Linked DNA regions of Homo sapiens: regions 2 and 3 are each linked to region 1. The links come from fine-mapping of genetic effects on gene expression. A gene starts in region 1. Each other region holds a variant in brackets. All regions are shown on one strand. Distances are between the middles of the regions.

Region 1 (10,441 bases):
ACTTTGGGAGGCCCAGGAGCGTGGATCACTTGAGCCCAGGAGTTCAAGACTAGCCTGGGCAACATGACAAACCCCTTCTCTACCAAAAACACAAAAATTAGCCAGGCATGGTGGCGTGCGCCTGTAATCCCAGCTGCTCAAGAAGCTGAGGCAGGAGAATCTCTTGAGCCCAGGAAGGGTTCGTGCCACTGCACTCCAGCCCAGGCAACAGAGTGAGACCTGCCTAAAAAAAAAAAAAGAGAGAAAGGAAGGAAGGAAGAGAAAGCAAGCAAGCAAGAAAGAAAGAGAAAGAAAGAAAAAAGAAAAGAAAGAAGGAAGGAAGAGAGAAAGAAAAGGAAGGAAGGAAGGAAGGAAGGAAGGAAGGAAGGAAGGAAGGAAGGAAGGAAGGAAAGAAGGAAGGAAGGAAAGAAGGAAGGAAGGAAAGAAGGAAGGAAGGAAAGAAAAGAAAAAGGAAAAGAAAAGAAAAGAAAAACATGGATGGCTGCCTCCCCTCCCCTGTCGTTCATCCACCTGCCCATGGGACACACATTGAGTAGACGCCCACTCAATGCTAATTGGAATCCACCCACCAGCTGCCATTTTAAGGAGCCTCACCTCCTCTCAGTCCCCACCTCCCACCTCCTCCTGAGAGGGTGGAGGAGGCATTCTTCCCATATCCCCTGCCCAGGCAGAGAGACGGAATCCCTCCCCCACCACCACCCCCTGCCCATCACGGTGTCCTCAGCTCCGGATCTGGCCAACAAGGACCCAGATGGCCCAGGCATCAGGAGGTGGAGTTCTATGCTCACCTCAGACACTCGCTGCCTATGCCATCCTGGCTGGTCCCTTCCCCTCTCTGGGCTTCTACCTCCCTGTGTAAAATCAGGGACCTTGCCCAGTTCAGGATTTTTAACCGGAGTCTTCAGACTCCCCGAGGTACCCCAGAGACTGAATGGGGGTAGAAGGCAGAAGGGGGAGGTTGAGAGGGAGGCCTGGCTGGTTCAGGGCAGGCCCCACGGTACATACTGGGGTTCCTGATGGGATTTCGTTTCAGCTGTTCAAAAGCAGGTGGGGAGCCTGTGACTTGGCTCACCCTCGAGGCTCATGTGCCTGTGCGTGTTGGCTAAAGCGCCTTTATTCCTCCCTTCAACAAAGGTTCACGTCCCCCCAACTCCCATCCGCCAGGAGGCCCGGCTCCCCATCCTGTTCCCAAGCAGCCTCCACCCCAGGCCCGCCCTTGTCTCTCCAGAGATCACCTACCATCTGGAGAAGGGCTTCGGCGCCGCCTCGCTCCAGCTGCTCCTGATCTCTGCGGGGCTCAAGTCACTCCTAGGGAGCTGGCCTTCCTCCTACAGCCCGCAGGGAGCCGTCAGGTCGGCCTGCCCCTTACCCACCCCCAGGAACTTACAGCTGGGGGTCGGGGGCCACGGTGAGACCCTGGCTGAGGAGGGGACTGGGCTGGGGCACAGGGAGGAATTAGAAGGCTACTAAACTGGATTCTGCAAGGCAGGCACTGAGCACCTACTGTGTGCAGGGCTCTGCCAGACACATCTTGCCCTCAGCGAGCTCATGGTCTGCGCAGGGACAGACACCTGCGGCCCAGCTGTGACTGAGAGGGGCCGAGGGGAGGCCTGTAAGGGAGGCCCCAGGCAGGGCTACCTCATCACATGACCTCAGGGCACCATGCACCCACCGTCTGTGGAGCTGTTTTGGGTGGGGGGTGGGTATTCTTGCATATGACAGCGTGAAAGGAGCACCCCAAGAGACAAGGGCAGTGAAGGGGAGGGGGCTTTGTCAGAGGAGCCTGGGAGCGTGCAGGGTATCCTACCAGGCTCCGAGTTCTGGGTGGTGTGCCTCGACCTGACCTGGCCACTTGAAAGCAAGGACAAGGCTCCTTGAAGGCTGAGATTTCCTTAGAGACCCCCCTCCCCCATCATCTGGTTTTGATTCTCATTCTGTAGGTCACAGCTCTAATGTCACTTCCTCACTGGGGCCTGCCCTGCCCTTTCAGACTAGGACTTTCAGACTATAGTGCACACAGTACGTGCTCAGTCAATGTTTAATGAGTGAAATAAAGGGGTCTGCCTTGTGTTGAGGAGGCCAACACACTGGGAGGTTCATAACTGTGCCAGCAAAGAGGTGAGAAGGGGGCAGAAGAATGGGGTATGAGGGAAGGTGGTGAGCAAAAGCCTCATCACCTCGGCAGCCGGGCTCAAGCCAAAGAGGCTGAGGGGTCAGGATGACTGATGGGGAAGGGTACAGACCAGGCTTTCCAAGAAATCAGCCCCCATGTTCTCCAGACCCTTGGCCACAGGTGTGAGAGAGATGGACTCTCTTCGTCTCGAGGGGTCGTTCTCCATGTCCCAGACCTTCCAGCTGAAAGACAAATCAGGGAGCGCCCAACGCTGAAAGGGAGGCCGGGCAGGGCCCAGTTTAGGGGCCCGGGGAAAGGGGAGAGGACTGAGTGGGGGGAGCAGATGCCTGGCACAGCCAGAGCCCTGCCTGGGGGCCACCTATGCCATCCCAGAGCTCACCCCTCCTTGTGACTGGGACTGCAACCTTGACTTCTCAGCACATGGAGGAGGTACCTCTTCCTTTTTCTAGAGACTGGGTCTCCCTGTGTTGCACAGGCTGGCCTCCAACTCCTGGGCTCAAGCAGTCCTCCCACCTCAGCCTCCCAAAGTGTTGGGATTACAGGCGTGCGCCACCACCCCAGCCTGCACCCACATCTGAACCTGTAAGAGGCAAGTCCTTGTGAACTCTGGGAGTTCCAGGCAGAAACAGCAAATTCTGCCCACTTCATAGGGAAGGAAAGTAAAGAATTATATACAGCCTGCATATGTATCTGATACAGGCATTTTTCTGAAGAGAGGACCTAGCTTTCATCACTCCCTACAACTGGTTAAAACTATTACCATTAAGTGAGATCTTCAGTGTATTCTACTTTTCCATCTCTGAAAGATGGAGGTGCAACATCCTTAAAGGCATCATTCCAGTTCCTGGATCCAACTATACCTGAAACCAATCCTACTCCTGGACTTTCCATTGCAAGAATCAATATAGTTCATTTTTTGCTGAAGCTCAGTTCGTAGGCTTAAGCTCATCTGTAAATAAGAGTGGTAACTAACACCTCCTCTCTCCCTTCTCTTGTTCCCGCTCCTTTTTCTCCCCTTGGGTGGTGCCCTACTCCATCCAAATGCCAGCCCAGTTAGGCTGACATACTCAGAGACCCGTGCATGTGCGTGCACACACACAGGCAGAGCCTGGGAATGCCCTGGCTCACACACAGACGCACAGCAGCGCACACAGAAGCGGGGCCCTGTTTCTACTCACGTATTTGCGGTTAACAGGTCGCTCTCAGAGAGAGAGGGAAGCACACGTCTCTGTGGGGACAAGCTGGGTCCAACCTGCTTTGGCTCTGGCTTGCCTTGTCACTTCAGCAGAAATTCCTGGGCAGAGTCCAGGGTCGGAGTAGGTTGGGCCTGCCACCCAGTTCTGCCCAGCGCCTCCCCAGAGGCCAGGGCCACAGCCAGGGTGGGGACCCCAACACGGTCTCAGGGATACAGGAAGCAGGCCCACTTGCAACCTGGCTCCCTGCAGCTCCTGCCCACTGGCTGCTGCTTCTCCATCAGAGATGCCCTCCTCTGCCCTCTCCCCAGTTCCCAAACTGACCTCTTCCAGGCCTATTAGGGCCGCTTCTTCCAGGAAGCCACCTATGTGATTATTTCCCTCCCCCTCCTTCCTTCCCATGGCCTCCTTTCCCCAGCCAGGCTGTTAGCTTTTTGCATTTTATCTTTCATTTTGCATCTTTCTCTATCTCCCTTTCTCACTAGATGGGGATTTATTATAACAGCAACCAATTTTCCTGTGCTGGAAAATGAGGAAAGCAGTGTAGCTGTGAGAAATAGTAAAAGTGTTTCAGGTCTGTCAAGAAAACAAAACCAAATCACACCATTTCCCCTTCATTTCATCTTTGTTAAATGAATACCTAAGCCAACGGTGTGCAAAGCGAAGGGCTGAATGCTTTAGTTTTCCAGTCCTCACACTAAACATTAAACTCATCTGACGGGATTCACAACATCTCTTTAATAATTAATGGTACGCGCTCAGGACAAAATCCTCTATGATGCATAAATACTTGCTAGTACCGGCACCTCCTGGTTGTTTTGGAAGTTTGGAGAGGATGGTGGATGGACACCCCCTCTTTTTGAAAACATTTTTTCTTCATCTGTCATTTGAATTACCAAAGCATTACAAGTGTATCATTAAACATTTAAACATTAGAGAAATATACAGAATGAGGGAAGTTAAAGTCCCCGGAATCTGAGCCCTCAGGGATGACCACTATTGAGTTTGTGTGGCATTTTCCTCCTTTTTTTTTTTTTTTTTGAGACGGAGTTTCACTCTTGTTGCCCAGGCTGGAGTACAGTGGTGCGAGCTCGGTTCACTGCAACCTCCGCCTCCCAAGTTCAAGCGATTCTCCTGCCTCAGCCTCCCAAGTAGCTGTGATTACAGGCATGCGCCACCACACCTGGCTAATTTTGTATTTTTAGTAGAGATGGGGTTTCTCCATGTTGGTCAGGCTGGTCTCGAACTTCCAACCTCAGGTGGTCCACCCACCTTGGCCTCCCAAAGTGCTGGGATTACAGGCATGAGCCACCGCGCCTGGCCTTTTCTCCACTTTTTTTTTCCTAAATGTATGTTATTTTATGTTATTCATTTTCCAATAGGGGATCACACAGTAACAGTGTTCTCATAATTTGATTTTTCTAGCAGAGTTCCGCACACTGTTGAGAGCCCATGTGTTACCTTGATTGAAAACTAGCCACAGAGCAAGACTCTACCTTTAAAAAAAAAAAAGAGGGGGGGCACGGTGGCTCATGCCTGCACTCCCAGCACTTTGGGAGGCCAAGGTGGGCAGATCACTTGAAGCCAGGAGTTCGAGACCAGCCTGGCCAACATGGTGAAACCCCGTCTCTACTAAAAATACAAAAATTAGCCAGGCATGGTGGCAGGTGCCTGTAGTCCCAGCTACTCGGGAGGCTGAGGCAGGAGAATTGCTTGAACCCGAGAGGTGGAGGCTGCAGTGAGCAGAGATCACACCACTGCACTCCAGCCTCGGCAACAGAGCGAGACTCTACCTCAAAAACAGAAAAGAAACAAAAACTAAATGCCTCTGAGCAGCACTACTGTCTCCATGGGTGGCCACCACAGGGATGGGCCTGGAGCTGTCCTCGAAGGGGTCTTCGCCAAGCCCTAGTGAAGAAAAAAAGGACGCTACCTGCTTTTCCACTTTGCCCTGTGCTACCCCCTTCCCCTCCTTTCTTCAGTCCCGCCTTCCCTCCTCTCCTACTGTCCTTTTCTCTCACCCTTGTTTCTGTCAGCATCCAGAGGGAAGCCAGGAACACAACACATCCAGCAGCAACCATGCAGTGCAGCTTATAACCTTCACATCGTTGTGGGCCCTAATCTCTACAACAAGGATTTAATGGGCTGTGTGTCTTGGGGTGGACCTTGAGCTTGGAGCCCAAAGGTCTCCACTCCTGACTGCCAAAGTTAACTTGCTGCCTCATCTGGTGGTGGGTAATAGAGCACATGAGGAGTCAGCGTGCTCCTGCTTAGGAAGTACCTGGCAGGGAGTCAAGCGGCATCAGGCTGGCAGGTGTCATTGCTGTCACAGGTCCCATCCGGGGTGTCCTGACACACTGCTCCCCTCCTCCAGGCCAGGAGACTCCGGGCTTCTCCCCTGCTCCTCCTCTCAAGGAGGCATGGCCAGCAGGGATCCCAGACCCCAGAAGCCAAGCGGTCTTTTCAGGTGGAATGTGGCAAAAAGCCACAGGCTGGGGAGTTGGGAGGCTGGATAGATTGGGGTGGAGACCCCAGGGAAAGACCAACAGCTGGAGGACCTCAGGTGTCCCGGCTGTGCCCCTCCAGCTGTGGGACCTCAGCATGTCCTTGGGCTTCTTGGTGGCCTGTTTCCTAAGGAGACAGCCTCTGAGGCCCGGCACACCCGCAGACGCCCGCTGAGTGAGACCTAGAGCTGAGCCAGGCCAGGGCAGAGTGGGGAGAGGACCACATAAATATACATAGATAATTTCCCTCACCATCCAGCAGAGCTCAGAAGGGTTGACAGTAAAGGGGCTGCTCCACCCCTCCAACTCTATCCCATTCCTCAGAGGCAACCACCTAACTTTTCTGGTTTTAGTTCTTCTGCAGGCCACCTCCTGTTTTAGGGAATTATTAGTCAAAGAGTTGGAGAGGATCCCTTCTCGCCAGGCTCTGACATAATAGGTTATTTTATAAGTAGTGAGTGAAACATTCAAAAAGCACAAGAACTGTCAGAAGAGTTGCTCAGCAATCTCTTTATTTTCTTCTCATGATTCTGCCCACACTCATTTCTTAGCTCTTCACAGGCGAGGTCTCTTTCATTGCATCGATTCGTGTATCCAAGCACTGGACAAATAAAGAGGCTTATCACTCGTCAAGTTCCATGAACATGACCTCATCATTCTTCTCTCCTAAACCTGGGATGATTGGCAGAAAGGGCATCCATACAACTTTTTCTTCTGCATTTGGCATTGAAAAATGGACTTCCCGTAGTCTGTAGTAGAAATATTGGAAAGTAGCAATAATCCTAGCACTTTGGGAGGCCAAGGCAGGTAGATCGCTTGAGCCCAGGACTTCAAGACCAGCCTGGGCAACACAGGGAGACCCTGTCTCTACAAAAAATAGAAAAAATTAGACAGGTGTGGTGGCGTGCACCTGTAATCCCAGCTACTCAGGAGGCTGAGGTGGGAGGATCATTTAAGCCTGGGAAGTCAAGGCTGCAGTGAACCATAATCACACCACTGCACTCCAGCCTGGGCGACAGGAGTGAGACCCTGTAAAAAAAAAAATTGATGACATAGAGCTAAATACAAAGACTAAAGAAATATCTTGGGCTTTTATACTCTTTGCTTGTGACTCTTCTAGTTTTCCTGTGGGAACGGACTAGCCCAAGTGTTAGAGCACACTGCTCTCCCGGCAACTACAGAGCTAGTTCAGCTGGTCCCAGGGGAAGAAAGCATTCCAGTACCCCAAAGGCTGGAAGCCCCCAGCCTGCTTGGCATGATTATCCAACGGTTTCCGATATAGTTTACTCCTTGACCCACTCTACTCACTGAGAACATCTGGGCACATGTGGTCATCATCCAATACAAAATGGAAGGCCGAGTCTGGGGCTCATCTACGGCAGCAACAAGAGGCCTGGTAGAATTAGGATGCCGGGTCCCACCTGCAGGAGTGCTTAAGGCCACCAGGCAGGGCGAATTTTACCCAAGCAGTTCAGAGCTCACTGTTCCCAAATATTTAATATTTAATTGATTGTACTTAAAAAGTGTATTTCCCTTGTTGTTCTTTTTACCTTCTATTCCTCTTGCCTCTCCAGCTCATATTAGCATTTTATTTATTCATTTATTTTTTTGAGACAGGGTCTCACTCTGTCTCCCTGGCTGGCGTGCAGTGGCGCAATCTCAGCTCACTACAGCCTCGACCTCCCACCAATCCTCCCACCTCAGCCTCCAGAGTAGTTGGGACTACAGATGTGCACCATACGCCAGCTAATTTTTTTTTCTTTTTTAAAAAATTTCATCCTGGTTGTTCTAATATTTATTTATTTACCTATTTTGTAGAGACAGGGTCTTACCATGTTGCCCAGGTCTAGAACTCCTGGGCTCAAGTGATCCTCCTGCCCCGGTCTCCCAAAGTGCTGGGATTACAAGTGTGAGCCACTGTGCCCAGCCTCATATCAGCTTTTCATATAGTGAGAAATTGAGATAGTTCCTTTTCAGTTTGATCCAGATCAAGATGTTCTGCAAACCAAGGGTCTTAATTCATGTTATGCTATTGGGTTCAGGGGTGATGTCCCTGTCTATTATAGGTTTTATACTAAAGGCTATATCTTCCTTCTAAAGTACACTTCCTCCAGCTATTGGCAGGGGCTGTGGAGACTATTAATTTGGATCTCCATTGCCTTATTGATCAAGTCACAGTTGATAAGCCGATTCGCTATACAGACAAAAATAATTCCTTGATTGTTCCATCTTCTCCCCCTGTCATAGAAGTGGTCTGATGTGGCCCTCACTGAGACTTAGGGCGAAGCCAGATATTTTTACAGGAGTAATCATGAAGAGGACTTAAGGCCTCCTGGCAGGAGCCAGGAAAACAAATCTACCAAAGACCAGCAGGGTCCATAGAGAAGTGCTGACAAGTAGGGCACCACAAATTAAATACAATTGTTAGGTAGAACAAAAACGGACACCTGTGAATGTCACGTCCCATATTCAGACATTGAAACTCTCCAAGCATATCTCGTCCCCTACCCCCCAGGTGGAATTCCACCACTAGTGTCCTGCCATGGAGTCAAAGGCGTGGCTGTGTCTTTCACTCTACTCTCACTGGTACTCTCACTGTTGTTCCTGGATGGGCCTGCCAATCAGACGCCATGACTCACTTGGAAACACTCCTTTCCATTTCACTACACCTGTAGAAGCAAGGTTCCTGATTCCAAGGGCTGCGTCCAATTCCCTCAGTTCTGTGGCCGTGGAGACCTGACCCATCACAGAAGCTCAATACTGGCCAGCTCATGGGCCGGGAGCCTCAGCTGTAGCATTTCCTGTTGGTTCCCATCAGTCTCCTTCCCCAGGGCAGTGCTGGTCCCCACAGGGATGAGAGCTGGAAAGGTAGTACTCAGGGGCTTGGGCAGAGAGCTTTTTTAACCACCCCAACCTCAGGAAACGGAGAGGCACTGGAGCTCCCAGGTTGGAGGGGAAGAGCAGTGTGTGAGGGGCCCTGAGATGGATCCTGTAGTTCCAGGAGATGGTGACAACAATGGTACCAGCTGGCACACTTAAGAGCTTGGCAGATGCCAGGCTCTGTGATAAGAGCCTTACATGCACTATCTCAAGGAACCCTCACAATAACCCAGTGAGGTAGGCATTGGCCACTGTTTCCCCTACCTGTCCTCCATGGGGGAGTATGACGGGGCAGCCAGTACCAGAAAGGGAGCAACTATTGAGAAGCTGGCCAACCTGAGGTAAAGCCAGGGGCCACCGCGCTGCGTGCTAGTATTTGGAAGATCTGAGCTAGCTCTTGAGGTGTCTGCCCCATGTGACCATCTCATCGGCTGCCTGACAGGCAGGATGGATTCTGGACCCCCGCTTGGACTCTACTGCTGGGGACTGTGTTCTCTGGCCAGACTCTGTGTCATCAGGGTTATGGTGTCTCTGAATGACTTCCTGGGTAAGACCCAGTGTGAATTCTGCAAGGATTGATTTACTGGGCAGTCAGCCCCATATCCTGAATAAGAATCCAACTGCTCCAAGGATATACATTTTGCCATGATAGAAAAGATGAGCCCTCATACAGTGGCTCACGCCTGTAATCCCAGCACTTTGGGAGGCTGAGGCGGGCAGATCACTTGAGGTCAGGAGTTCGAGACCAGCCTGATCAACATGGTGAAACCCAGTCTCTACTAAAAATATAAAAATTAGGTGGGCATGATGGTGCATGCCCGTAGTCCCAGCTACTCGGGAGGCTAAGGCAGGAGAATTGCTTGAGCCCAGGAGGCACAGGTTATCGTGAACCAAGATCATGCCACTGTACTGCAGCCTGGGTGACAGAGCGAGGCTCTATTTCCAAAAAAAAAAAAAAAAAAAGAAAGAAAGAAAGAAAAGAAAAAGAAAGGAAAGAAAAGATGAGCCACCAGCATGGTAGCACATGCCTGTGGTCCTGGCTACTTGGGAGGCTGAGGTGGGAGAATTGCTTGAGCCCAGGAGTTCGAGGCTGCAGTAAGCCATGATAACACCACTGCACTCCAACCTGGGCAATACAGCAAGATCCTGAAAAAAAGAAGACAGAGAGAGAGAGAGAGAGAGAAAGAGAGGAAAGAAAGGAAAGAAAGAGAGAGAGAGAGGGAAAGAAAAAGAGAAAGAAAGCGAAGAAAAGAAGAGTCCCAGTGAAATTTCTCTGTCAGCGAGAGCCAACACAGCAGGATGCCTGATGGATCTTATGCAGATTCCTTAGCCTGAGATGGGGATTCTGTTCAAGTGATTTATTGGGGGAGTGTTCTTGGGAGAAGGGGATAAGGGAGGCAGAATAGGGCCAAGGGAAGAAGCAGCAGTGTGGTCTCGGCTGGGGCTTGGCTTTAGTCTGATCCCACAGAGACACCCTAGAGCCCAAACTCTCCCATGGAGTTAGTTCCACTTTGAGGTGAAGCAAGGACAGCCTTTCGTAGCAGTGCTAGTCATGGGCCAAGGATGGGGGCAAGGATTAAGAGTGGAAGTGGGGATTGCCTCCCGGGTGAGGTGGCTTCCATTTGGCTCAGGACAATGCTTCAAAATGTATGTTTTTGGAGCAGTTGATTCTTATTCTCTGAGCGACCCCAGCATGCTTCAGAGAAGGGGCAGCTGTGAGTTGCTACCAA
Region 2 (10,441 bases), 38 kb before region 1:
GCAGACCCAGAGATTGAAGGGAAGGAAGGTTTGTTTGTTAGGTGCTTTTCCTCTGGGCCAGCTATAGTTGTAGTCTGGGGCTTTCAAACCAGAGACTGTAAAATGGAGGCTCAAGGGCACCTAGGGATGATCCTGGCTGCCTCTGCCCATTCTGTGCAGCTAAAGGGAAGTGGGTACCCAGGCCCTGTCAATGGGGAAGCCAGACTGCCCAGGGCTGGGCCTGGACTTTTGCCTGAGAAAGGGAAGAAAAGAGGGCTGAGTTTTAAGCCAGATTGTGGAAATGGGCGAGCATTCTTCCAGTGTTTAAGTTCTAAGTAATGACTAGGAGGAACACCAGCGTTATTCTTTTCGTTGTCTAAGGGGACCAGAACAAGGTTAAGACATTTAAAGCCCTAAGTTCTGAAAATATTATGGCATCCCCCTCCCCCAATATCCTGCCATGAAAAAAAGTTTCAGGAACAAAGTTTTGGGTTTCCATTTTTGAAATATCAAATTCCTTCTGCTGGGACTCTTAAAACAAAACCTAGAATAAAGGGCTCAGAAGTAGCCTCAGAAGAAGTTTTTCTGTCCTGCCCTCCCATTTATCAGTCCAATTCTCCTTCAAGGCTAGCCATAAAAACTAGAATTCCCCTTCTCCAAGGCAGGGCACGGAGACCAGAAGCCCTTTTCCCCAAAGCCAGCCATAAAGCCTAAAAACATTGCTTTAACTTCCCTCTGCCTTTCTGGGTAAAAAGTGGCAATAAAGAAATTATCTGACCTACTTTGTTTGAGTGTAGGTCATAAGACCCCCCCTTCCAGAGAGGATCTTGCCCCATACCCAGAAGGAAAAAATGCTCAGAGAGCCCAAGAAGAGTCTACACAGACAGGCTTTGCTGTTTTTCCTCCACTCAGTCGATTAGTATTAGATCACACTCTGTTTGTCCAATTCTATTTCTATGTGGCTATCCATACTTTGTTGAACCTGAGCGTAAAAATGGACAATTTTCCCTGTATCTTTGGGTCTTCCTTCTGAAGGCCCCCGTGTGTATGCATTAAATAAATTTGTGTGCCTTTCTCCTGTTAATCTCCCTTTTGTGAGCTGATTTTTCAGTGAACCTTCAGAGGACGTAGGGGAAATTTTCCCTTGGCCTCCACACTTCCAAAAACAATTGGTGGTGGGGTGGGTGGGTGCACCAGTTTTAATGAGCCCTTTTCTAGGCCTCAGCAAGACAGGTGCAAACCAGATGACAGTCTCTAGAATTCTAGATGGGAGGGTACCAGGCCAGAAACCAAAGCCCCTGAGCCCAAGGGGACTTCTTGAAAAGTCACGCAACAGCTGGCCCTGCCCAGACAGCTCTGTGGCATGTAGAGCTGAGCTTATTGGTGTGGTCCAGGCATCCGGAGTGAAGGAGAGATGGAGGGGCAGGCTGGCTGTTTGTTCACCCATCTCTCATCATCCCCAGGGACAGAGATGAGAGAGACAGGTGGAATTTGGGATTAAAGAAGGGGACAATGTAGGTCATTTTCTGGTCACCGCCTACCACCACCCCCCCCCTCCCCCCACCCCCCACACAGCATCCAGAGAGCCTGGGGCAGGGGCAGAGAGCCAGAAGGCAGGGCAGGGTCAATCTCCAAATCAGCACATACAGGCCACCTCACTCTCATGCTGAATGCTACCACCTTGTGTGGGGCAACTTACCCAGCTTATGACTGTACTGCTGGGCATTTAGGCTGTCCAGTTTTCTTGCTTTTGCAAATGTTGGAATTTTGCATTTCTTGAACACTTGTGAGAATATCCCTATATCACAATTTTTCTAGCTGGATCAAAGGGAAAGAATATTTTTAAAGTGATTGAAGCTGGATGCAATGGCTCATGCCTGTAATCCTAATATTTTGGGAGGCCAAGGCAGGAGGATTGCTTGAGCCCAGGAGTTCAAGACCAGCCTGAGCAACATAGCAAGATCCCGTCTCTACCAAAAAAAAAAAAAAAAAATAGCCAGGGGTGGTGGCGCACGTATGTAGTCCCAGCTACTCAGGAGGCTGAGGTGGGAGAATTGCTTGAGTCCAGGAGTTTGAGGCTATGGTGAGCTGTAATTGCACCACTGTGCTCCAGCTTGAGTAACAGAGGGAAACTCTGTCTCTCTCTATATAAATACATGTTGGTGTCATGTGGGGAGTTAAAAAACAAAAAATAAATATTTTTAATTGCTCTATATAATAAAATACAATATTTTATTATATAAATAAAAAAATTAAAAGTGATATATGATAAAATAATAAAATATTATATATAGAATAAAATAAAAAAACAAAATATTATATATAGAATAAAATAAATAAAAAATAAATAGACTGATAGGCCTTCACCAAAAAAGGTTACAGTAAATTAAACTGTTACCATGAGTGGGTGAGTACCACACACTTGCCATTTGGGGGCACGTAAAGGGTTTCATATCACTTAGAAGAAAGATAAGTTATTATCGTCTTAATTCCTTTGAACATCAGTGAGCTTGAATATCTTTTTATAATTTGTGAACTATTTTCTCCTGATCAATGATTCTCAACTTTTATTAAAAAAAAAAGAGAGAGAAAGTATGTGAGTACTCAGGTGTATATACCTAAAAGCCTACTTACACAGAAAGATTTGGAATGACATTTTAGGTCAGTGGTCTCAAATTGGGCGGGCATCAGAATCACCTGTGAGGCCTGTTGCAACGCAGTATGCTGGTTCCACCCCCATCATTTCTTTTCTTTTTTTGAAACACAGTCTCACTCTGTTGCCCAGGCTACTGTGCAGTGGTGCGATCTCAGTTCACTGCAACCTCCGCCTCCCAGTTTCAAGTGATTCTCCTGCTTCAGCCTCCCAAATAGCTAGGATTACAAGCACCCACCACCACGGCCAGCTATTTTTTTGTATTTTTAGTAGAGATGAGATTTCACCATGTTGGCCGGGCTGCTCTCAAATTCCTGACCTCAGATGATCCACCCGCCTTGGCATCCCCCATCGTTTCTGATTCAGCAGGTCTAGGGTGGGCCCAAGAATTTGCATTTCTAACAAGTTCGCAGGTGATGCTGACAATGCTGGTCCATGGACCCCACTTTCAGAATAGCTGTTCTACGCTATTAAAAGCAATTACCAGGCCAGGCACCGTGGCTCATGCCTGTAATACCAGCACTTTGGGAGGCTGAGGTGGGCAGATCACAAGGTCAGGAGATCGAGACCATCCTGGCCAACATGGTGAAACCCTGTCTCTACTAAAAATACAAAAAAAAAAAAAAAAAAAAAAAAACTAGCTGGGCGCGGTGGGGCGTGCCTGTAATCCTAGCTACTCAGGACGCTGAGGCAGGAGAAACGCTTGAACCAGGGAGCTAGAGGTTGCAGTCAGCCAAGATTGCGCCACTGCACTCCAGCCTGGCAACAGAGCAAGACTCCGTCTCAAAAACAAACAAACAAAAAAAATTAATAAAAAATAAAATCAGTTACCCATGGGAAGTGGGGTTAAGAAAGAGATTTAAAAACTTATTTGTTTCTGCAATAAGCAAGAATTTCTTTGATCATTAAGGAAATAAAATTGAGACCTTTGAAGATTTGCCTGTGAAAGCACAAATGTGAAAGCATAAGGTGTTTTATGAATGTAAAGCATTATTACCGGGCATTATGTGAGGGATGCATTTGAGAATTTCCCTCTGCCCACCATGCAGTAGCATTGTGATTGCTTTTAGGGCCTAATTCACACCACTGGAATTTGACCTACAAATTCTTTGTGCTGTGTAAACTGCACAGGCAATAATTTAGGAGCAGAGGCAGGACTTGAGCCCAGAGAGAGTGTGGGGAAAGGGAGGAGGGAAGGAGTAGGACGGATCTCTAGGGACAGCCCAGGTGTGAGACTGGAGAAATGAGCACAAATTTTGGAGTCAGACAGATCTGGGTTTGGGCATCTCACTTACTCTGGAGCCTCAATTTTCTCATCTGGAAAATGGGGATATTAAAACACCTAGCATACTGCCTGGTACCTAGCATGCACTCAGTAAATGGAACACCAGGAAGCTTTGCCCCAGGTGGCCATGCGCAAAGCCCGAGCAAATGGTCCAGCCCACTGGGCTCAGGGGAAGCCACTCCTCTTGCCAGCACAGCAGGCCCAAGAGAGAAGATCTGAGGGCTGCTCTGGCCAGGAGCTGTGTGGGGCTCCCACAAAGATGGGCTTCAGGTCCTCAACATAGCCAAGCAGAAGGAGGGCTCTACCTACCCCAAAGGAGATGTAGGCACCCAGCAGGCTGCCAGCAATGGTGGCGTAACCTCCGGTCATGACAACGTGGACTTCAGAGAGTGTCATGTCTGCCAAGTAGGGCCGGATCAGTAATGGAGCCTCGGTCTGCAAAC[A/G]GGAAAGATGTCAGACAAGCAGGGTGGGGGTGATTGGGCACATCCTCTCCCTTCACAGGTCACAGTGAGCAGCTGGGAGTCCCACGGTAAGAGGCAGCAGGATGGGGTAAGGACCAGGGTCTGTACTTGGCTGAGCTTCTCTGAACCTCAGCATTGCCTACCTCTACAGAAGGACCCCCATCCCTCCCTCCCGGCCTGACAATGCTCCCCTGTGTTGATGTCCTGCCACGTGCCAGGCACCCCGCTAAGCACGTCACCTTTGTTACTCACAACCTTCTGAGATAGAATTGGGTATCTCCGTTTTCCAGGAGAGCAACAGAGGTTCGGTGGGGTTCCAGGAATGACCCCTGCTCATGTAAAAGGATGTGAAGCAGGTCCTGCTGCAGGCCCAAGCTCTCCTGCAGCCACAGCGGTGGCCAAAAAGAAAGGAGCTTGGGCATTGGATGAGGGGTGCATTTCTGGGCATCTGGGCAGCCCGAAGCCCTTCATTACTCATTCAGTATCTAGTTGTTGAGCGCCTACTGTGTTCCAGGCACTGTTATATAGAATAGGAACATGGCGTCGACAGGATAAAGTCCCTGCCTTCATAGGGCTTATATCCTGGGAGCCGTGGAGGGTGGGAGGATATAGATAATCAACAAGCAACCAAGCAGGTAAGCAATGTCATTTTAGATGGTGATGAAAGCTATGAAGATATGTGTGATAATGCCTACTGGTTAGGGGTGTTTAAAACTGAGTAGGCCAGGCACAGTGGCTCACGCCTGCAATCCCAGCACTTTGGGAGGCTGAGGTGGTAGGATTGGCTGAGGTCAGGAGTTCCAGACCAGCCTGGCCAACATGGTGAAACCCTGTCTCAACTAAAAATACAAAAATTAGCCGGGCATGCTGACACATGTCAGTAATCCCAGCTACTAGGGAGGCTTAGGCACGAGAATCGCTTGAACCCGGGAGGCGGAGGTTGCAGTGAGCCCAAGATTGTGCCACTGCGCTCCAGCCTAGGTGACAGAGCGAGACTCCATCTCAGAAAACAAAAACAAAGAAACTGAGAAATCGGCAAAGCCCTCTCTGAGGAGGTGACATTAGGTTAGGGTTGGCTGAGACCTGAAGGAGCCAGTGACATGGTTTGATAGCATAGCATTCCAGGCAAGCGAATAGCAGAGGCCCTAAGGCAGCAAGAAGCTCTGCAAGGTCCAAAAGCCATAGCAGTCAGCATGTCTGCTGCAGATGGGCGCGGGGGAGCCGCCTGAGACAGAGGCAGAGGGGGCAGGTGGGCCACAGAGGGGCTAGGAAGCCACGGTGAGGGGCACGCTTGCTTAGGCAGGAGTGGAATGATCCGCTTTGTGTGTTTGAAGGGTCACTCGGGTGTATGAGTGAAGGACGGATAGTACGGGAAGGAAGAAGAGGTAGGAGGAGACGGCAGTGTCCAGGTGAGAGGCAGGTGGCCCGGGCAGCGGGGGGTTGTAGATGGGCCACAGAGGCAGCGCTGTGGGAATGCTGATAGATTGGATGCCGCAGTGGGGGAAGCGGAGGAAGGCAGGGCAGCTCTTCCAGCTCCGCCTGAACCATCCTGTGGAAGATGTTCCCACTTGCCAAGAGGGGAAGGGCTTGAGAGGGGCAGGGGTGATGAGGGAGGGGAGCAACAGTTCAGGTTGTTTGGACTTAGCGTCTTAATGTGCGACACCCCTTAGATCTCCAAGTGGACGGTCAAGGGGCCAGTTGACCTGTCAGTCCTGAGTTCATGGGAGATCAGGACTGCAGAGCAGGACCTGAGAGACATTTAAAGTGTTTAAAGCCATGGGGCTAATGTGATCCTGCAGGGAGGGAGTGTGGATGGACAAGAGCAGAGGGCCCAGGCCTGCCACAAGTAGAGAGGTTCAAATGATGCCACTGATCCCTGAAGGCTCCCCATCCCTCCCTCTTGGGGGAAATGAGGCGTAGACCCCGGCATCTAGGTCAGCTTAATCAACAGCTTGTCCAAAGTGAATTCACCTTGGCAGCGCTTCACATCGCCCAATGTCACTTTCACCTACATATTTTCCCAGCAAAACACATGGAACACATTTGCAGCCTTTCATATAGAATAACTGCTTTGCATTTTAATAGTGTTTTCCTCTTTTGCCTCATTTTGAACACCTTAAGGGATTTTTTTGACAGTTTATCTGAGAGCACGTCTATCTTCATCGGCTAAAAACAAGACAAAACTAAACAAAAAATAACCAGAACAAAAACTTTCAAATCAACACACATGCACCGTAGCAAAAAAGATAAAAATATTCTCCAAAGTTTCCTAAACTGTCCAGTGAAATATGGCATCTTCTAACCAGTGTGTCTCTTGGTGACTCAAACATTAGGCAGATGGGCCAGGACAGGCCTTGGCAGAGTCTCCAGAGGGCCATCCTCAGGGGGATCAGGCTTTCTGAAAGGGACTCGGCACCAAGGGTACTTTCAGAGTCACATTTACTTTGGAAAACACATTTTAAGAAAGAGGGAGAAAAGAAAAGACAAAATGATGCAGTGGAAAAAACTCTGACCAGAAAGAAGAAAACCTGGATTTGAAGCCGTGGCTTATATGTGTGGAATCTTGGTCAAGGGATTCCCATCCCCTGAGCCTGTTTCCTCATGTGTAAAATGAGAAACTGGATCCATCTGGAGGATTTGTGAGTCTTTGGGCTGATGAAGACCGCCTAGGGCTAGAGTGGTAAGAGAAGCCAGACAGATGACATCCTCCCTGGCATGACCCAGGCATCCCCCAAACAGAGTATCCCTGGAGCAGCAGAATTTGATGACCCTGGGAGAAGGTTCAAATGGCTCTTCCTTGGACTGAATCAGAGCTCTGGGGATCCAGGGAAACTGCCCTCTTTGGGGAAGCTGCTGATGAGCATGAGGGTAGGAGGCTTCCATACCCACCTGGCTCACAAAGATGTTTCCAGCCACACTCAGGGTCTCAGTGGCTGTGGTGCCCATGGTGACTTGCATCAGCCAGGCAATCTAGAAGGAAGCAGAATGTTCTTTGTGGGCTGACATCAGCAAACCCCAGAGTCAGAGGGGGCTGGAGTGGAAGACCTTACACAGTTTCCTCCCAACTCCCAGCCCAGTGTAGGACCCCTTCATCTACATTTTCCCAAAAGGTCCATTCATCTTCTTCTTCCACACCTTCATTGATGGGGGCTTACCCCTTCCCAAGGCCATTCATTTCACCGTAGGAATGCAGAAAGGATTTCCTGGCCCAATATATTTGAGAATTGTGAAATGCACACACACACACACACACACCCCTTGGAGATTACCAATACACATTAGCTTAGTAAAGCCTCTGAGAAGTCCTGCATTAAGCCTATTTAAATTTTCATAGCATAATGTCTAGCCTAGTTTCCCTAAATTATTTGACCATGGGATTAGGCTACCTTTACCTGGTAACATTTACTAACATGCTGTGGAACTAGAGTTTTGTGGAAAAGGTTTTGGGAAACATTCTATTAGAAAGCCCTTCCCCTTCCCCTTCCCCTTCCCCTTTCCTTTCCTTTCCTTTCCAAGACAGAGCCTCGTTCTGTCACCCAGGCTGGAGTGCGGTGGCACAATCTTGGCTCACTGCAACCTCTGCCTCCCAGGTTCAAGCAACTCTCCTGCCTCAGCCTCCTGAGTAGTTGGGACTACAGGCACTCGCCACCATGCCCGGCTAATTTTTGTATTTTTAGTAGAGATGAGGTTTCACTATGTTGGCCAGACTGGTCTCGAACTCCTGACCTCAGGTGATCCGTCTGCCTTGGCCTCCCAAAGTGCTGGGATTACAGGCATGAGCCACCACGCCCAACTAGAAAGCTCTTCTTTTTAATCAAGATGAAATCTGCTTCCCTGGAATTCTCTCCACTGCTGGTGCCTCTCAGGTTGCCCTTTGCCTAATCTCTCTTCTGTAAGTATTTGGAGACAGCTATCCTCCCCTAACTTCCTCTTCTCCAAGCTCCTCATTCCCTATTCCTTCAACCATTTTGTGGAGGGCATGGTTTCAATCCCTTTCACTATCCTGCTTATAGTTCAGTTTGTCATAGCCTCTTGGTTGAACACAGTCTCCAGGTCTGGGGAGAATCACCTCCTTTATGCTATGCTGTGTGTGCTCTTAACATAACTGCTATGGTTTGAATATCCCCACCTAAACTCATGTTGAAATTTGATTGCCAAATAAAAATATATATATATTTGATTGCCATTGTAACGATGTTGAGAGGCATGACCTTGAGGAGGTGATTAGGGCATGAAGGCTCTGCCCTCATGAATGGATTAATGCTGTTATTGCAGGAGTAGTTTGGTTATCATGGGAGTGAACTCCTGATAAAAAGGATAAGTTTGGCCCTGATCTCTCTGTGTCTTGTGTGCTCACTTCTGCCTTCTGCCCTTCCACCATGTTATGACACAGCAAGAAGGCCCTTACCAGATGTCAGTGCCATGCTCTTGGCCTTCCCAGCCAAGGTTTCAATCTTGAAACCATACCCTCTATTTGGCCATGAGCCAAATAAATCTCTTTTCTTTATAAATTACCCAGTCTGTGATATTCTGTTATAGCAACAGAAAATGAACAAAGATAATAACCACAGGTTGTTTTTGCATTTCTGGAAGCCATCTGATGTTGCTGATTTATTCTGAGCTCAATCAGCTAAAACCTTGGAATCTTTTGCCAAGTCCAATGCTATCTGTTGCTGTCCAATGCTATCTCCTACATCCTAGTTTTGTGCAGCATATTTTATGAACATAAGCACAGGATCTGACATTTATACCAGCTAAGTCTGGCCAACATGGTCCACTGCTACAGTCTCTCAATATCTTTTCGGTATAAATTATTTTCTTCCCTCTACACCTTTTCAGTGCCGCCTCAAAACTGCAACCTTTCCTCTAGCAAGGACCACATTAGACTTTGGTGCTATTTCTCTTTAGTATCATGACAGGAGACCCTGGGAAAGGACATTTGGTCAGCACTAGATTCTGTGAGGGTGAAGATCCTGGAAGCAGGGGATTCAGGGAAGGTATGGGCCTCAGGAGCAAAGGATTCTAGGAAGGTGTGAACTCTAAGAGCCAGGGGTTCAGGGAAGATATGGACTTCAGAAGCAAGGGATTCTAGGAAGGTGTGAACTCTAAGAGTTGGGGATTCTGGGAAGGTATGGGCCTCAGGAGCAAAGGATTCCAGAAAGGTGTGGAACTTGGCAGCTGGGGATTCTGGGAAGGTGGAGGCACTGGGAACAGGGGACTCTGGAAGGGTGTGGGCTTGGGGAGCAGTGTGTCTGGGGAGGTTTGGGCTCTGGGAGCAAGGCATTCTGGGACAGTGTGAACCCTGTGAGCTGGTGACTCTGGGAGAGCCCTGGCCATGGGCACTGGGAACTTACCTTCAGGATCACCCACTGCATGAGGCCCACGTGGTAGAGAACGGATATGACACAGCTGAAAAAGACAATGATGGGCAGAACCTGCCGGGAAGGAGATCATAGGACCGCAGGTTAGAGGCAGGCAGGATGCAGGGTGCCAGGCGGGGCCCAGGAGACCCCAGACAGCCCACTCCATCCCAGGCCTTGCCACTCAGATGCCTGACAGGATCCGGGAAGATGCTCTGAGATCAGTGCATGAAGTCCCAGGGTTCCACATGCAGGGCCTCTTTGGAGGCAGCCTTGTCCTCTCGGCTCCCCTCTAAATAGTGACCAGCCGCCAGACCACCCCCTCTCCTCAGCACAGGTAGGCCTGTGCTGTGGTAGGGTGGGGCCTGAGTGTACCACTTTTATCTCCTGCTTCTTTGTCTCTAAAAGGGGAGTAAAATGCCCACATCTGAGGGTCGTTGTGAAGGTGGCAGTGTGCACCCTTCTCCATGAGCTCAATCCTTGGCCTCAGACTCTGGCCTTAACCTCCCTCTCATGCTTTGGGCCTGAATGAGGGGACCCTCATCATTTTGGTGCTCCACTTCTGCTCAGCACCAACATGCTCAGAATTAGGCTTATCCCGGACCTGAGCCAGCATCTCCTCCCATCACCCCATTTCCTATTATTAGTACCAGGCTTAACACTCCTCTTCCTTCACTCCAAGCTCACCCATTCTCCCTTTAGA
Region 3 (10,441 bases), 60 kb before region 1:
ACCCTTCCTAAGGCTGGGCACAGTGGCTCAAACCTGTAATCCAAGCACTTTGGGAGGCAGAGATGGGTGAATCACTTGAGGCCAGGAGTTCACGACCAGCCTGGGCAACATAGAGAGAGTCCCCGCCATCTCTAAAAAAAAAAAAAAAAAAAAAAATTAGCCGGGCATGGTGGCACACACCTGTAGTCTCAGCTACTTGGGAGGCTGAGGTGGGAGGCTGAGGTGGGAGGACCCCTTGAGCACAGGAGGTCCAGGCTGCAGCAAGCCAGGATTTTTGCACTACTGCACAGCAGCCCAGGCAACAGAGGCCCCATCTCAAACAAAACAAACAACAAAGCAAAACACCCTTCCTAATAAGTCTGCCTCTTTCAAATATCCTCCTAAGACCATATCCAATCTTTAGTCTCATCACAGCATCTTGGTTCCACCCATGAGATCATATTTACCATGCTGTGTTCTGGCTTCATCTTCGACTTGCTCTTGACTCATGCACTGTCTGCACACAAATTCAGAACAGCTTCGAATCAGGTCTGGAGCAAATTTTGAAACCCTGCTATGTGTTATGTGAGGAACAGCTGAAAGAACTAAGGGTGCCTGGCTCAGAGAAGGGAAGCCTGGATGGGCATCATCTTCAAATACTTGATGGATTGTCATGTGGAAAAGGGATTAAACCATTTCTATAAGTTTTAAGATTTGACTTTTTAAAACTAATGGGCAAGTATTACTTTGGTAAGTAGGAAAAAGGACAACAAAGATATACATATGAGATGAGACCCATTCAGAGTGGCCCAGAATGGCAAAACTGGGATGGATCAAAGCAAAACACTTTTTGATGCAAAATCAAAAAAGAACCTTCTCAGAAGTGGAGCTCTCCAATGTGGAGTAGCAATGAGAGGCGTGAGGTTATTATCTTGATGAGGTTTAAGCAAATGATGAATGACTGCTTGATTTCAAGCAGAATCGGGGGTTAACAAAGTGACTATCCTAGGCAATGTCCTTCTCATTACAAAGAGGAACCTTCTCAATTAGTTTAGGTTAGAGGGGATTTCTGGAAAGAATTTGGCTGTCATGGAATCCAAGGAAAAGCAGAACAACTGGGCTGCAGTAAGGGAGGGAATGAGGTCAGCTCCAAGCCATAGCCCCACCGTGGTGACTCAGCTCCCAGCTCTGTTTCTGGGTTTTATAATTCATATTCCTTCCCAAGAATCCAAAAGGCCATTGGCAAGAGTACAGATTTGGCCTGCCCTGAGTCAGGCATTCAATCCTGGTTCAATAGCAAATCACTCATGGGAATGGAGTCTCATGACTCAAACATAAAAACATGTTGACAGAGGCCATCCATACAGTGGGTATAAACATTCTCAGAAAAGCTGGATGGGGAGGTAGACACCCTCAAAATGATGTTTAAGGTCCTGTCCAACCTCAGGGCTCACTAATCCCAAGTCAAAAGTAATTTCAAGCAGATGATATTCTTCATGTGGTTGCAAAGAGGTCAGGACTAATTAACATTCAGCTGAAGGCATGAGCTTGAATTAAATTGAGGGGGCAGCAGAGGTGAGGGCAGGGCCATGGGAAGAAAGGGGCAGAAGGGGGGTCAATGTAGCCCATTAGTCAACTCACAGACCTTGGCATGTTGCCTATTGGGACATGCATTGTCTAGGACAGAGTTACCCATGGGCTGAATTACAAGTTATACAGCATCTGTGTCCACGCAGTTTTTTTTTCCCCATGCCATTTAAAAAATAAACTATTAAATTTTAGAATAGTTTAGACTTACAAAATGTTGCACCAATACTACCGAGCTCCCATATATCCCACACCCATTTTCCCCTCTTGTTAATAGCTTACACTACTATTTGCTATGGTCTGAATGTTCATGTCTCCTCAAAGTTCATATGCTGAAATCCTAGCCCCCAAGGTGAAGGTATTAGGAGGGGGGGTCTTTGGGAGGTGATAAGGTCATGAGAGTAAAGCCCACATGAATGGGATTAGTGTCCTTATGCAAGAGGCCCCAGGGATCTCATTAGCCTCTTCTGCCATGTGAGGACACAGGGAGAAGGTGCCACCTATGAGAAACTGGCTCTCACCAGGCACAGCATCTTCTAGCACCTTGATTTTGGACTTCCCAGCCTCAAGAGCTGTGAGAAATACATTTCTGTTGTTTATAAGCTATCCCATTTATGGTATTTTGTTATCAGCCAAAACTGACTAAGACAGAAGGGTACAGTGTGAGCCCTATATTCAAGTGGCCTGCAGTCTTCTAGGGAAGGCCACTGGCCACAGAATGAGCGTGCAGGGAGTCCAGAGAAGGGGGTCAAGGGCAGTCCTTGGGCTGTTCCATGACCCAGCTAGTGGAGCTGAGGCCAACATATGGGCAGGGAAGGGGCGGAGGGCCAATCCTGGGAGAGGACTGTGTTGTCCATATCAACAGGGCACCCTGCCCACAGCCCAAGGGCAGCTGGAGCAGGTAGCAAGGACTGAGGGAGGGCTGCAGAGAGAAGGCAAGAGCCTAGCTGGAGCTACAGGAGTCAGGCCAAGCCTCCACTCTGTGGAGCTAAGGGAAGGACACAGGCCCTGAGGATGGGGACCCAGGTCAGCCTGTGGGGCTCACAAGGAGCAAGGCTGCTGCCCACTGGAACCAAAGTCTGTGGCAGAACAGAAACAGGACCTGGCTCACTGGGGCTGAGCTGAATAACTGCTGGCCAGGGCTCCACCCTCCCACTGCCCTAGGTCAGGGTCAGCCCCAGCTAGGAAAGAAGTTGGACCTGGCAGGTAGGGGTGAGGGTGTAGGGCCCCAGCAGCCACAAGGGCAGGGTGCATCGCAGGTCCTGGAAGCCAAAGCTGCTGGGGAAAATGAGAACTGAGATGGGAGCAGGGCAGGCGGCAGGGAGATGGAGAGGGCATGCTGGTGATAGGAACTCCAGAAATGAAGGCAGGGGAGGGACATCGGGCCTCACCTAGTGGCACAGAGGGCTTGGGGTGGGGAGGAAAGGCAGCGAGGGAGGTGAGGGCGGGCCACCCATCAGGGTTCCCTGAACACCAGCAGCCCAACAGAGAGGCCCCACATCGCAGTTTGTGTTATGACCTGAAAATACAGAAGATGCATGAGGAGGGGCTCCCCTCAGATGGGCTCGGGGCACCCCTATACCACCCAGAACTAGGTGGCCTGGCTCAAATCCTGCCTCTGCCTCTTCCCAGCTCTGTCCCTTTAGGCACATAACTTAACCTGTCCGCGACTCCGATTCCTCAACTAGTGACAATAATAACACCTACTGCATGAAGTTGTTGTAAGGATTGAGTTAAAATATATAAAGCGCTGAGAACAGTGCCTGGCACACAGTGCCACATAAGCATTTGCTAACATTACAGTTGCCTAGAGTAAAGCAGTTTGAACATTAGCCAATATTTCCCAAGTTGTATTCCACAAAATCTTCAACTGAGACACTTCCATCAAAAAGGTTCTTATGGGCCAGATACAGTGACTTATGCTTATAATCCCAACACATTGGGAAGCCAAGGTGGGCAGACTACTTGAGTCCAGGAGTCTGAGACTAGCCTGGGCAACATAGCAAGACCTCATCTCTACCAAAAAAAAAAAAAAAAAAAAAATATATATATATATATATATATATATATGAACATACACACACATATATATATATGTATGTATATATATGTGTGTATTTATATATAAATTAGCTGGACATGGTGGTACATGCCTATGATCCTAGCTACTTAGGAGGCTGAGGTGGGAGGATCACTTGAGCCTGAGAGGTTGACGCTGCAGTGAGCCATGATCACCTCACTGTACTCTAGCCTGGGTGACAGAGTGAAAAGGTTTTTATGGTCAAGTAAATGTGGAAAAAACCACCAAGCTCTGACAAGTTCACAGTTAAAAAAACAAAAAAATAAACAAACAAAAGTCTAAACAGCCCTCTCTAAGTTTATTTAACCCAGTGGTTCCAAACCTAGTCCATCATGGAACCCTCTGAACGCCTCCCAGGACAGTGTGCCATGGGACCTCAGTTTGGGAAGCACTCTGAGGAAAGGCGGGAAGGGTTTCTCTGAAAGCAGAGAAAGAGGTGACACCACCCAGCAGGGGAAGCCACAGAGAGATCCTAGTGCCTAGGAAGTGGGGAGGGGAGGAGGCTTTGGTGTGCAGCCCACAACAGAAGGGAAGGGGCATGTGAGGGACCCCAGGAGAGGGGGGATAGAGAGGACCAGGGTGCTGTTTGGATGTGGAGGGGAAACGGGAGGAGGCAGAAGTGACCCTGAGAATTCACACTGGGGGAGTTAGGAAATGGGGGAGCAGGAAGGGGGATGGAGTGGGACATGTCCTTCCTTATGTCCTCACTCACTCTCTGCACACTCACTCCATGAACCCTTCCCAATTGTGGGATTGAGCTGGGTCTAAGTCCTGTGGCTTCCCTGAAGAGGGCTCTGGGAAAGGGAAGGTGGGGACAGATGGTTCCCGGGGGAGAACAGCCCTCAGAAGCGCAGAAGCACAAGCATGTTCTGTCCTCACTGTGCACAGATCGTGTGGTTGTAAAACCGACAGCAGTTGTCCAGGGCCTCTGGGCTGAACTCTGGATTGACGCTAAAAAGAAAGCAAAGATCGCAGTGGGAGCTCCAGGCCTGGTTCTGCGGGCCACCA[C/T]CAGGCTGTGCAACACCGGGAACACTGTTTCAAGTCTCTGGTCCACCCTTCCTCCATTGGTCCTCGAGCCTTCACCTCCCCATTAGCTGCAGCCGTAACATTTCTACCCTCACCCTGGTACCAAAGGCATCCCCCCCAGCGCTCAGGCATTCTGTCTATCACTGTGGGTGCCCTGCAGGTCCCACAGCCCAGGCCCTCACCTCTGGAAGGCCTCACGGCAGCACTGGTAAATCTCAAAGCTACTGCTGCTGAGGGTCGTGTTCAAGAGGGACATGCAGTCAACTTCAGCCCCCCTGGGCATGTAGAGGATCCCTGTAGAGGGAAAGTGGTGGGTGGGGCAGGGCCCCCGGGCTAGCCAGAAAGTCAGGGTTCCACCTTCTGAGCCTGCCAGGCCTGCACTCACCTGCCATACAGGCGTTCACCAGGGACACACAGGCTCCCGTGAAGAGCGCCCGGAGCACTATCTGGGAGAAGTCGCTCTTCCGTTGGGGGACCATGGAGGCTGCAAGGGGACAGAAGTGCTCAGGGCCTGGGAAGCTGTGTCCCTCTCTGCCCGCGTTCCGCAGCTCGGGCTGCATCTGCTGACCTCCCTTCCTCTTCTATTAATAGATGGCCAGAGGGACAGATGTTGTCCTCCTGACAGCTTGCTGAGCTCAGGAGTTCTCTTTGGCCTGGCTTGGACCCCTAGGCAATGCCCCACATCTCCCTACACACCATGAGTGGCAGATGCAGGAAAAGAATGTGAGTTTGGAGTCAGGCAGACCTGGGATTAAATACAAGCTCAGCCACTCACTAGCTGAGTGACTTGGGCCACCACTTCACTTCATGAAGACTCAGTTTCCTTCTTTGTAAAATGGGGTGATTATACCACCAGGCAGTGTAGCTGCCAGGACTGGAAATGTTATTTGTAAAGAACTGAGAACTGTGCAGACCCTTCGACCTTAGGCCCCACCAGGCCTGCCTGCCTGTCCACTGTGGGTGTGGGAACAGGCAGGCCAAAGCCTTGGGGACAGGCAAGCACCACACCTCCCACCCCTGAGCCAGGCTTGGCCTTCAAGGCCCAGGTGCTAACTTCCTGGGCCACCAGCAGCAGCAGAGAATCGGAATTCTAGGGCTAGGAGGAAACTCTATGAACATCTTTTTCTTTTTTCTTTTTTTTTTTTTGAGACAGAGTCTCGCTCTGTAGCCCAGGCTGGAGTGCAGTGGTGCGATCTCAGCTCATCCTCGTGCCTGGGTTCAGCTTCCTGAGTAGCTGGGATCACAGGCGTGCACCACCACGCCTGGCTAATTTTTGTATTTTTAGTAGAGATAGAGTTTTGCCATGTTGGCCAGGTTGGCCTCAAACTCCTGGCCTCAAATGATCCACCCACCTGGGCCTCCCAAAGTGCTGGGATTACAGGCATGAGCCACCACACCTGGCCTCTATGGCCATCTTGTTTGGGTCCTGCTTTAGACAAATGAGACAACTGAGGCCTACATGTCCCGAGCAAGTTCAAGTCCCAGACTCTCCTAGACACTGGTGAGGCCCTGATTAGACTCACTCAAGCCTCCCAGCATGATCCCAATGGAGCTGAAATTGGCAAATCCACAGAGGGCAAACGTCGTGAGGACTTCAGCTCTGACCTGAAAATACAGAAGATGCATGAGGAGGGGCTCCCCTCAGATGGGCCTGGGGCACCCCTATAACACCCAGGCTCCCTGGCCTTAATTTTACCCACTTCTTACATGTAATTGACCTTTGAGTCCTCTGTGCTGCCGCTTCCCCAGCCTTGCAATCCCACCTCTAAGTTGGCTCAAACTGCACCACATCAAAAACATAGCCCCCCTCTCTTATCTGTCCTTCAACTTTTTTTGTTTCTTTTTTTGTTTTTGTTTTTGTTTGAGACGGAGTTTTACTCTTGTCACCCAGGCTGGAGTGCAGTGGCACAATCTCAGCCCACTGCAACCTGTGCCTCCTGGGTTCAAGCCATTCTCCTGCCTCAGCCTCCCGAGTAGCTGGGATTATAGGTGCCCGCCACCACGCCCGGCTAACTTTTTGTATTTTTAGCGGAGATGGGGTTTCGCCATGTTGGGCAGGCTGGTCTCAAACTCCTGACCTTAGATGATCTGCCCACCTCAGCCTCCCAAAGTGCTGGGATTACAGGTGTGAGCCACCACACCCAGCCTGTCCTTCAACCTTTTAATCTTCATTACCAGCCTTTCTGGATGGGGTTCAGCCTTTGTTAGTCCTGTCGCTTTGGCCCTACTAAGCTCTGTCCTGGGGCCATTTGGTGGACAGCCCCTTCCCTGACCCCGCAGTCCTGGGCTTCCAGTTCACAGCACTCCTGTGAATGCTCTCAGGCTGAGAGAGGGAGTATGGCCCACAGGAAAGAGTAAGGGATTTGGAGCCCAGCCAGCCTGGCTTCTAGGATTGTCTCACCAATGATCAGCTTGAGAAGTCAGTCACTTCTTTCAGTGTCAGTTTTCCTGTCTGGAATAGGGGAATAATAGTAGTTGCCTGGGAGGGCTGTAAAAAGGATTATATAATGTATGGGAAACACCAGGCAGACAGTAAGTGTTCAAACACAATAGTTATTTGCTTTTGTTCTTAACAACTGTCCTATTTCCCAGAAAGAAGTTTTAAGAGCCAAAATGAAATAATTTGAAAACAAAATTGGTTTATGGGTACAAAAAAATAGTTAGAATAAATGAATAAGAGCTAATATTTTATAGCACAACAGGGTGACTATAGTCAGTAATGACTTAATTGTACATTTAAAAATAACTAAGAGTATAATTGGATTGTTTGTAACACAAAGGATAAATGCTCGAGGGGATGGATACCCCATTCTCCATGATGTGCTTATTTCACATTGCATGCCAGTATCAAAGCATCTCATGTACCTCATAAATATTTACACCTACTATATACCCACAAAAATTAAAAATTATTTAAAAAATTGGTATAGAGCCTCCCCTCACACTATATAAAAATTAATTCTAGATAAATATTAATATTTTAAGTATAGAATGATAGAAAATATAGGATAATAAATATAGTTACAAGGTACTATTATTACTCTTATTTTGGAGAGGAGTAAACCGAGGCTCAGAGAGGTTAAGTAACTAAGGAAGTTCACACAGCAAGAAGGTAGCTGTATCAGAATTTGAACTCAGTTCTGACTCCAAAGCTCATGGTCTGAATTATCTCATCACGTTATTTCACGAATTTAACACTTTCCAGATAACTTTCTTTTTCTTTCTTTCCTTTTTTTGAAAACTTCTGCCTCCTGGGTTCAAGCGATTCTCATGCTTCAGCCTCCCAAGTAGCTGGGATTACAGGTGTGTGTTACCACACCTGGCTAAGTTTTCTATTTCCTGTTTGCCATGTTGGCCAGGCTGGTCTCAAACTCCGGGCATCAAGTGACCCACCCTCCTTGGCCTCCCAAAGTGTTGGAATTACAGGCATGAGCCACCGTGCCCAGCCGCACTTTCCAGATAACGTTATAAGTTTAGAAATAACAGAAGAAATCACAAAAGAAAATATTTGGTATAAAATCTATGTTAAAAAAAAAACAAATCCCGGCCGGGTGCAGTGGGTCACGCCTGTAATCCCAGCACTTTGGGAAGCCAAGGTGGGCAGATCACAAGTTCAGGAGACCGAGACCATCCTGGCTAACATGGTGAAACCCCATTTCTACTAAAAATACAAAAAATTAGCCGGGCACAGTGGCGGGTGCCTGTAGTCCCAGCTACTTGGGAGGCTGAGGCAGGAGAATGGCGTGAACCCAGGAGGCAGAGCTTGCAGTGAGCCGAGATCACACCACTGCACTCCAGCCTAGGCAACAGAGCGAGACTCCGTCTCAAAAAAAAAAAACAAATCCCAAATGCTGGGTCAAGTGAGAGCTGACAGGCACTGGGTGACTCTGTGCCTCACTGAGGAAAAATAACTAAACATGGGCAGAAGAGACCCTAAGAAGCCAAGAGGCAAAATGTGATTATATGCACTCCCTGTCCAAGCTTGTTGGGAGGGACACGAGAAGAAGCACCCAGATGCTTCAGGCAACTCCTCAGAGCTTTCAAAGAAGTGCCAGAGAGGCAGATGACCATGTCAACTAAACAGAAAAGAAAATTTGAAGATGTGGCAAAGGCGGACAAGGCTGGCTAGGAAAGAGAAATGAAAACTTACATCCTTCCTAAAGGGAAAACAAAAAAGAAGTTCCAGCATCCCAATGCGCCCAAGAGGCCTCCTTTGGCCTCTTCTTGTTCTATTCCAAGCATCACCCAAAAATCAAAGGAGAACATCCCAGCCTATCCGTTGTTGATGTTGCAAAGAAAGTAGGAGAGATGTGGTTATAAAACCGCTGTGGAGAATAAGCAGCCTTAGAAAAAGACACCTGCAAAGCTGGAAGAAAAATACAAAAGGGATATTGCTGCATACCGAGCTAAAGGAAAGCCTGATGTAGCAAAAATAAGGGAGCTGTCAAGGCTGAAAAAGAAAGAAAAAGAAAGAATAGGAGAAACATGAGAAAGAGGAAGAGGATGAGGGGGAAGGAAAGATGGGGAAGATGAAGATGATGAATAAGCTAGTTCTAGTAGCTTTTTTTTTGTATATAATGTATTTAACCCCCCCACACTAAATTCATTCCTTTTAAAGAAATAAATTAAAATGTAAGGCCATGTAAGATTTGTTTTTAAACTGTACAGTGTCCTTTTTTTTGCATAGTTACATACTACCCAATGTGTCTTTAGATAACTCTGTCCTGGTGGTATTTTCAATAGCCACCAACCTTGCCTGGTGCAGTATGGGGGTTATAAATTGGCATGGAAATTTAAAGCAGGCTCTTGTTGGCACACAGCACACATTAGTTATGTATGTGGATGGTAGTGCCTTCATCTTTAGTTGTCTCTGATGCAGCTTACACAAAATAGTTGCTGTTTTGTTAACTAAACACCACTGGAGCCGGGCGTGGTGGCTCATGCCTGTAATCCCAGCAATTTAGGAGGCCAGGGCAGAAGGATTGCTTGAGGTCAGGAGTTTGAGACCAACTTGGGCAATACGGCGAGACCCCGTCTCTACAAAAAATGCGAAGGTTAGTTAGCCAGGTGTGGTGGCACACGTCTGTAATCCCAGCTACACAGGGGCTGAGGCAGGAGGATCACTTGAGCCTAGGAGGCAGAGGCTACAGTGAGCTGTGATTGCACCACTGCACTCCAGCCTGGGTGACAAAGTGAGACCCAGTCTCCAAAAATAAATAAATAAATACATACATATATACCACTCAAAAGTTACAGCTGTTTTGTTGACATTCTGAATGCTTCTAAGTAAATACAATTTTTTTAATTAAAAAAAAAACACATTCCTGTGCTTGCTTCTTGTGCACATATATTAAAACTTCAATGATACAAAGAAGATTAGCATGGCCCCTACCTGAGGATGACGCACAAATTCATGAAGCGTTCTACATTTAAAAACCAAAAAATAAATTTCCTTATACAACATAAAGGGCAATAACAGAAAAGGCTAGGAAAAGTATATGTAGAAAATATATCAGAAAAAAGTTAATGCCTTTATAACATAAAGCATTGATACAAATATTATTGGAAAAAATATGAAGGTACCTGCATCTCTGCTTGCCCACCTACAGTTGTGTTCCACAGAGCAGCCCCAGGCTCCCTCCCTTCCTTCGGTCTCGCTGTCTTTTTCCCTCCCTCCCTCTGTCCCTTCCTTCTTTCCTTTCTTGCTTCCTTCTCTCTGTCTTTTGTTTTCAGACAGGGTCTCACTCTGTCACCTAGGCTAGAGTGCAG

Direction of the effects. Alleles are on the strand shown, and positions count from the first base shown. SD is a standard deviation of normalised expression in the study named. Not every link is listed here.
With allele C in place of T in region 3, the expression in left ventricle of the gene that starts at base 5,438 in region 1 is higher (small effect, 0.28 SD a copy in GTEx).

What was found. PIP is the estimated chance that this variant, and not a neighbour inherited with it, causes the effect.
Region 2: its variant is fine-mapped to the expression of SLC28A1 in nasal epithelium (TOPMed, PIP above 0.99).
Region 3: its variant is fine-mapped to the expression of SLC28A1 in left ventricle (GTEx, PIP above 0.99). The same link has a PIP of 0.9 or more in skeletal muscle.

The regions. Positions count from the first base shown.
Region 1 is chr15:84,879,659-84,890,099 of GRCh38, reverse strand. It overlaps SLC28A1 (solute carrier family 28 member 1), which reads right to left and starts at 5,438. Exons shown (of 19, transcript NM_004213.5): 1 at 5,349-5,438; 2 at 3,313-3,428; 3 at 2,244-2,355; 4 at 1,240-1,328. The coding sequence starts at 2,339. RefSeq lists enhancers at 1-423, 5,358-5,858, 5,859-6,359.
Region 2 is chr15:84,917,896-84,928,336 of GRCh38, reverse strand. SLC28A1 (solute carrier family 28 member 1) reads right to left here. Exons shown (of 19, transcript NM_004213.5): 10 at 9,733-9,813; 11 at 7,268-7,348; 12 at 4,227-4,352. Among named protein-coding and RNA genes, the nearest start is that of SLC28A1, 38 kb to the right of the region's middle. RefSeq lists enhancers at 211-270, 3,683-4,183. The variant A/G (reference allele first, on the strand shown) is at 4,361.
Region 3 is chr15:84,939,281-84,949,721 of GRCh38, reverse strand. It overlaps SLC28A1 (solute carrier family 28 member 1), which reads right to left. Exons shown (of 19, transcript NM_004213.5): 16 at 6,196-6,277; 17 at 5,058-5,156; 18 at 4,855-4,966; 19 at 3,924-4,597. The coding sequence ends at 4,522. It also overlaps the pseudogene RNU6-796P and the pseudogene HMGB1P43. Among named protein-coding and RNA genes, the nearest start is that of PDE8A, 37 kb to the left of the region's middle. The variant C/T (reference allele first, on the strand shown) is at 4,655.